Homo sapiens: one gene and its partner. The protein of the gene in region 2 purifies or fractionates together with the protein of the main gene of each other region. This does not show direct contact. Each region holds a gene or a part of one and is shown on either strand. Other genes may lie near its edges.

Region 1 (3,649 bases), on a different chromosome or scaffold from region 2:
GATAGTATGTCTTTTGCAATATACGCACACAAGCTCTCTAGAAAGGATACACACACAAGGTGTCTAGGAGGGGTTTCCTTGTTTCTGCATCCCCCCAGGAGATGTGCACTCCAGAACGAAGCTTTTCACTATCTCCTCTGCTGTTTGGGAAAATGGAAGTATATTTCCTATTCAAAGAAATTAAATTAAAAATGAAAACAGGCCAGGCGCAGTGGCTCACACCTGTAATCCCAGCACTTTGGGAGGCTGAGGCAGGCAGAGCATAAGGTCAGGAATTCGAGACCAGCCTGGCCAACATGGTGAAACCCCATCTCTACTAAAAATACCAAAATTAGCCGGGCATGGTGGTGCATGCCTGTAATCCCAGCTACTGGGGAGGATGAGGCAGGAGAATTGCTTGAACCCGGGAGGCAGAGCTTGCAGTGAGCCGAGATCGCGCCACTGCACTTCAGCCTGGGCAACAGAACAAGACTCCGTCTCAAAAGAAAAAAAAAAAAAGAAAAGAACACAAAGAAAAGGCAATGAGGGGTCGAGATCTACCAACCAAAGCTCTGTGTGTTCCAGCCTCTCCTGCCCCTTGGCCTCTGCCAAGATGAACCTCAGAGATGCCCCCTCATCCTCCTAGGGAACTAACTATTGGGCAGCCACTGGTTCCTGGTCTAGATTTCACTCCTAGTTGTAATGATGGTTGTGACGGTCTAGTGACCAAATAAATTATCCCGAAGAGTCTAGAATTAATTCCAATTCCCAAATGTGAATTATCAAAGCACCTTTCTCAAGAGGGCACCCTAGGGTGAATAAACAAGTTAATAATTATCAAATGGACATTGGATTCCAATTAAGTGTCCAGCACCTTGGGAGTGTCAATCAGTGTGAATGAGGAGAGTGTGACTCTGTAACTCATAGTCCTTTCCCTCCATCTCCAGGTTTCTCAACCTGGACGCTGCTGACTTTTGGGCTGGAAAATTCTTTGCTGTTGGGGGCTGCCCTGTGCATTGTAGGATGTTAGCAGCATCTCTGGCCTCTACCCACTAGATGCCAGTAGCACCCGCCCCCCCTAGCTGTGACAACAGAAACTGTCTTCAGAGATTGCCAAATGTCCCCTTTGGAGCAAAATCACCCCCAGTTGAGAACCACTGTTCTCATCACTGCATTTCCAGGTAACGGCTTCATTCTCCCCCCATCAGAAGCTGGTGATCTCCCCTCTGCCTCTACCCCAGGTGGGTTGCCATAGAGGCTGAGGGATTGACGGAAACTTCATTGTGAGGGAGTTCCCCGAGTTTCATATGTGGCAACCAGTCCTAACTCCCTGGGAACCTCTTCTGTCTCAGGGAAAACAGCAATCTCAGATTTTATAAAATAACGATCTGCGGACAGGAATCTCTCCCATGACTAGAAGGCCCAGACAATTAAAAGGCACCCCTGTGCAGGTTGATAATGAAAGCAGAACACATGCAGGCTGGCCAGATCCTACTCTATGGCATCCCAAGATTGCAGGGATGAGGGAGCCCGGGGGAGTGAGTGCCATTTCCTCCTGTGATTATTTTCCTACAAGTGACAGAAAGAAAGGAGCGAGGCACCGTGAAGGTGCACTCAGGGTCATTTTGTAACCAACAGGGTGGACAGGTAGGTGAGCCGGCCGTTGTCTCTCCTTCCTTTCCCAAGGACGTAATTCCCAATGGACAGCTTTCTTTGGAAGGCAAAGAAAAAGGGACTGTATTTCTATGTTTTGATTAATCTGAGGCTCATCCCTGAGGGCTCCGTGAAATGAATGAGCAGAATTTTCCATGGCCAACTGTCCTGGCTGCCGGGTCCTATCGGCAAAAGCGTAGTGTTTATTTACTTTTGCTCGTGTTATTTTTATTCCAGTTCAGCTGCAGCTCAGTGCGGAAAGCGTGGGGGAGGTGTATATAAAGAGTACCGAGACTGGCCAGTACTTGGCCATGGACACCGACGGGCTTTTATACGGCTCAGTAAGTATGAAGCTGACATGCTTCCAGACGTGGCCAAGGTTTGAGGTTTCCAGAAATCTTGTTACATGGAGTGAGGCAAACTATAAAGCAACAATTAGTCTCTGTTTGTTATTTTTTCCAGAAGGATTCCCACCCTCACTCTGCTTTATTTTAGGCACAAACATAAAAGAGTTTCTTGTAGTATTCTCTCAAAACTCTCAAATGTATTATCATATAAACACAGAGTAAAGATTGATTGATGTTTTGGTAACTCTTCAATCACTCATTTTAGAATATCTAATCCCATTCCATTCATTCATTCATTCATTCCAAAAATGTTTTTCTTTCTTTTTTTCACTTTGAGACAGGGTCTGGCTCTGTCGCCCAGGCTGGAGTGCAGTGGCACAATCATGACTCACTGAAGCCTCGAACTCCTGGGCTCAAGAAATCCTCCCCCCTCAGCCCCCTGAGTAGCTGGGACCACAGATGAATACCACCATGCCCAGCTAATGTTTTTATTTTTTGTAGAGACAAGGTCTCACTATGTTGCTGAGGCTGGTCTCAAACTCCTGGGCTCGAGCGGCCTCAGCCTTCCAAAGTGCTGGGATTATAGGCCACCACACACAGCCCAAAAATGTTTCTTGAGTACCTAGGTACTACGTGCTATAGGTGTGTCTCTTATTGCTTTTTACACAAATGGCAGAGCCTGGGCTTTCATAGTTTATATGTCATGCACAAAACTTTGAAAATAGCCCCTTTTATTCTGAAAGGATCACCTAAAAGGATAGAAAGCTTAATAACTTAATTCAACATTTATCAAATGTCTCCTGTGTCTAAGTGCCATGTTAGGTACTGAAAGGGTGTGAGGATGAATGAGCTGCAATGGAGAGGCATAGTCTAATTGTTTCTTCAGTAGCTAAAATCCTCCATGTTCCCTGCCCTTTCCCTATCATAGCTAGTGCTTTATACAGGTTTGACCATGTATAGATAGGTCTTTATGGGAAAGGAATAGAAATAGAGGCAATGTGATTTTGCCCCTATTGGTATCTCTGTGACAGGAGTTAACTGGAGAGACAGCTTAAACCAATGACTGCGGGTTTTGAAGTTATTTCTAGATTTTAATGTTCCCTCCTCTGTATCCTAACAGTTGATAAACTAAGGCTTGGCTGTAATTCCTAGCCCAATCCACACCCCTTTCCTCCCTTTTATGAAGATGTCTTCAAAAAGACAGTCAGTAGGGGGAATTTTAGTCTGGAGCTTCAACTTACATCGAATTGCCAAGTGACAGAGGGCACAGAAACCCTCTCTTGAAGTTGTCATCTCAGCCAAGGGTCCCAATGTGAACACAGCTTCGTTTCCTCTCACTGCCCACTAGGGATCAGGAGATTAAATCATCAGCGTAATAGGTAACCTCTAAAATGCTATGTGCTCAGTACAGATCACCTGGGACGGCTTTAAGGGGTTTGGCAGTAGGGGATTTTTTTAAGGTAGTTCTTCCAAGTGGTAGTAAAATCAATCCATCAGTCAATCGCTTAGTCTCAGACTCATGATTGAATCTCACGCCTCTGCCACTCTGGCAAGTCACTTACCCACTCTGAGCTTTGTCTAAAATGAGGACAGTCATGGATCATAACCGCCTCACACAGAGCGTACATGGGTTCAGTGGTGCAACACACAGAATGCGCCCATCAGAGTGG
Region 2 (3,749 bases):
GAAGCATATGATTGAGATAAAGACTATGGACTGGCTGGATTTTGTGAAATGAGGTTTAAACTCTCAAATGGAAATAAAACCAAAATCCACTCCAGCCTCGATGGACCCTGTTGGGGAGCAGCAGCCCTGTGTGCCCCTGTAGCGTGGCCTTCTCTCAAAGCCCTTTGCTTCCCTCCAGTAACCCAGGGCATATGGAGTAAAATCCCAAGAGCCAATGAGGAAGACGGCCCAGTTCTGGTGCCACCAGCAGGCTTGGGTTCTTGAGATTTCTGGCAGAGACTGGAGGAATAGGGCTATTTCAAGACATGAGGCCTCCCCTCTTCAGTAAGGGTCTCCAGGGCTTCCTTAGGGTCAGGAAAAGACAAAGACACTTACTTCTGTCCTGGCAAAAAGAAATCAAGGTGGGAGGATGCAAGGCCATCTCTGGCCTTCCTGTCTACTCTCAACAGCTTTCTCTCCCCAGGTTCCAGGAGACCTAAGCCCCTCTGCTCCAGGACACAGCATTCTACCAGCCCCCTTCTTACCCACCGCACACAGTTGTTCCCTTCCCAGTGAGCTTCTGGTCATCCAAGAGCAGACAAACTTGTTCCCAGAGACCCAGGGGCAGATGTGTGTTGGACTTGGGTCACCCGGGGAAGGCTATTTATAAATCACCCCGATAAGCACAATCTGCCCTGCTCAGCCCAGGCCACATGGACACGCTGTGTGTCTGGTGATTCTACTGCTAAGCTAACCCTCCCAGCACCGTGACAGCAAACTGGACATTTCCTGTATCAGCCAGGCCTAAAAAGTGGGCCCTGGAAGGTGCAGGAGGCTCAGGAGCCAGCCAGCCACTGGTCCTGAAGGGTCTGGCTTACAAACTATTCTAACAGCAAGAACTTTCACTGCTTTTTTTTTTTTTTTTTTTGTATTAAATTGACCCATCTCAAGATGTGTTCTTGTAACACAGTGGTCAGCAAACTTTTTCTGTAAAGGGCCACATTGTAAGCGTTTTCAGTTTTGCAGGCCATATGGTTTCTGCTGATATAGTGTAGAAGCAGCTTTAGACAATATGCAAATGAATGAAGGTGGCTGTGTGCCAATACAACTTTATTTACAAAACCAGATGCTCAGACCACAGACCAGAGTTACCAGCCACTACTGCAAAGGGAACTCAAATGCTGGAAAACAGGACCTCATTTACTACACACATCTGTTTAATCTGCTTCCCAGGTTCCTATACTTAGGGAGCTACCTGAAAGGCCTACACAATGATTTTTCTTAAGGCTATCTAGCTTTCCACACACATTGACCACTGCCGTTCTCAATGTTCAATTCTTCTCCACCAGAAAATAAAAGAGGTAATTTTAGACTCAGTCAAGCATACCCTGTGGGAGTCTGGTGGGGGCCCTCCCAGGGTGTGTAAGAACAGGCAGCCTGTGGCGGGCTTTGTTTTGGGGACACACATGCTCGCAGAGCCCACAGGCCAGAACGTCTCAGTCACCAGTTTTTCTCTTTGTTACAGCTGGTGTGACCCTGCCTGGCCCAGCGCTGGGGGAGCTAAGAAAGCCAGCCTCCCTCAGCCCTGAATGCTGAAAACCTGGGACCATGGGGTCACCCATTTGACAGCGCAGTGGCCTGGGCACATCTGTGCACTCAGCCATGTGGGAGCAGAGATCCCTGACAGATGACACCTAAGGACAAAGTCACACATGTACACGGTTCCGGGTACGTGGTCCCCGAGGCCCATCCAGCACACCAAGAACCTTAGCCCCAACACCAATGGGCTCCCGGCACACACATACCACCCTGCACAGCACCCTGGCACCGAACTACTTCCCCAGCACAGCATCGGCCCAGCGGGAACATCCCTCCCGCCATGAACTTGAGCCTCCCTGCCCACGCTAAGGAGCCAGACAAGTGTCTGGGCTGTACCTTCCGCTCTCTGCGTGTCCAGCTGCTCAGGCCTCCTCGGGAATGGGAGAGAAACCCGGCTCTGCCCAGCAGCCAAGACTTCTTTCCTCTTTATCCAGGCTGCCCAAAGGTGATAGGAGAGTGGATTCAGGACCCAAGCCTCCTCTAGCTCACAAACCTACCCACCTGAGGAAGATCAGTGACCAGAAGCCGGCCAGACACGGGAAGTCCGCGAAGCTTACCTAAATAGAGACCCAGCCGGGGGAAACCAAATGGTGTTCTTGGTGGGGAAGAGGCAAACAGTCCGCACTGCAACACCCGCGTGGTGTCAAGTAACAGTCAGATTAAACAAACAGCCTCAGCTGCTATTTTTACTTCCAAATCAGCCACGAGTAACAGATCACTTGGGGAGTGAGAAATTGCTTGCCGCTTAGCCGGACCCTAACCACGATTCCAACTTCAATCCAGAATGATTGCTAAAGCTATTCCAGCACCTAGAGTCAAATAAAAATATCCCGAGGTGGGAAGGAAAACATTTGTTTAGGGAAACATTAAAAACAGGAGAGTGTGTGCCTTGGAGCCAGAGCCCAGAGCCCTGCTGATGTCCCGGGGCAGAAATAGCCCGTTTCATCATCGGCTCTGGACGACCGCCGCCCGCATTCCTCGAGTAAGGAGCCGTCCTCTGCTGTGCTTTTGGAGCAGAATAATCTGCAGCTAGGGGAAGGCCAGGCTGGGTCTCAGGGTGAGAGTTACAGAAGGATATGAAATAATCGGGGAAGAGGCAAGGTAAGTGTCCACTTGGTAAGCTTGGCTACAGCAAGCCCGGTTGTTTGCAAAGTCCAAGCACCAGTGGACAAGTCCCGTTCTGCCAGGCTCCCCTCTCCACCTCTGGGAAGGGCTGGCCTCCCTTCAACCCTGAGGTGGGCTCATGCCTGCCTTCCCAATGGCTGCTTTCTGTCTCAGGCTGGGGTCACCTGCTCCCCAAACTGCCCACAGATCCCCCAACTTTTTCCACTGGCTTTTCCTTGGCTTGTGCCATGCCAGCTCCCAGAGTGCCTTCCTTACTCTCCCAAGCTGGCCCTAGGATAGTCTGCTTGCTACCAGGATTTAATGCAAGAGTGGGTTTTTTTCCCCCTTTCTCTCCAAGGTTCTTTTTTATGCTTCCCTGACTGTGGCCTGAGAAAGCGGAGATGACTGGCCCCCGCTGGGTGTCCTGCTCTGTGCAGCGCTCAAAGCCTCTGCAAGTTTGCAGTGTGCTGTGTCTTTGGGTCTATTTGTAGACTGTCCCTTCTGCCCCTGTGGGCTCTTCAAGGGCAGCAACCTGTGTCCCAGCCCCAAGCTGGGGCCTGGCACCACCTCCAGCCTTGAACCGGCTGACAGCCAGGGCCACAGGGACCCAGGTCTATGTACTTTTGTCTAAACCAAGTCACAAAGAACAGCTCCTCCTTGCCCTGCAGACTAAGGTGTGAGATTCCAACCAGCAGGAGCATTCAGACCCGCCTCCTCCTGGGAGCCTCAAGACTTGCCTTTTGCCCTGAGAGCTTCAGAACCTCGCTGTGGGGATGATTACTTGCTGCTCCGCACTCAGAGATGCTTTGAGGGAGGCCCAAAGTGAACCCCTCAATTTTACCCACCCACCTCCCTACCTCCCCATTTGCCAAAACAAACGCATGCCAAAAGGTCAGACAAAAGCCATCAACTTGAGATGGGAGCCAACATTTAAAAAGTACACAGGATTTTGAGCCCTGGCTCCATTATTTCCTGGTCAGTTGACATGTCACATACTTACCCTTCCTGAGCCTCAGTTTACCCATCTCTAAAGTGGAGAGAATGCCTGTGCTCTGTGGGATTCAGGG

The links.
Region 1: the proteins of C10orf71 (region 2) and FGF1 purify together in Homo sapiens (affinity purification with mass spectrometry; one large-scale study listed by BioGRID and IntAct). This does not show direct contact.

What each region holds. Positions count from the first base shown.
Region 1 is NC_000005.10:142,599,026-142,602,674, reverse strand, and holds part of FGF1 (fibroblast growth factor 1 isoform 1 precursor), read left to right. Parts: intron 1-1,869; coding exon 1,870-1,973; intron 1,974-3,649. UniProt on the Homo sapiens protein: Plays an important role in the regulation of cell survival, cell division, angiogenesis, cell differentiation and cell migration. Functions as a potent mitogen in vitro. Acts as a ligand for FGFR1 and integrins.
Region 2 is NC_000010.11:49,297,620-49,301,368, reverse strand, and holds the start of C10orf71 (cardiac-enriched FHL2-interacting protein), read right to left. Parts: upstream 2,200-3,749; 5' UTR 2,136-2,199; exon of another isoform or gene 2,080-2,135; intron 2,072-2,079; exon of another isoform or gene 1,915-2,071; intron 1-1,914. UniProt on the Homo sapiens protein: Plays an important role in cardiomyocyte hypertrophy via activation of the calcineurin/NFAT signaling pathway.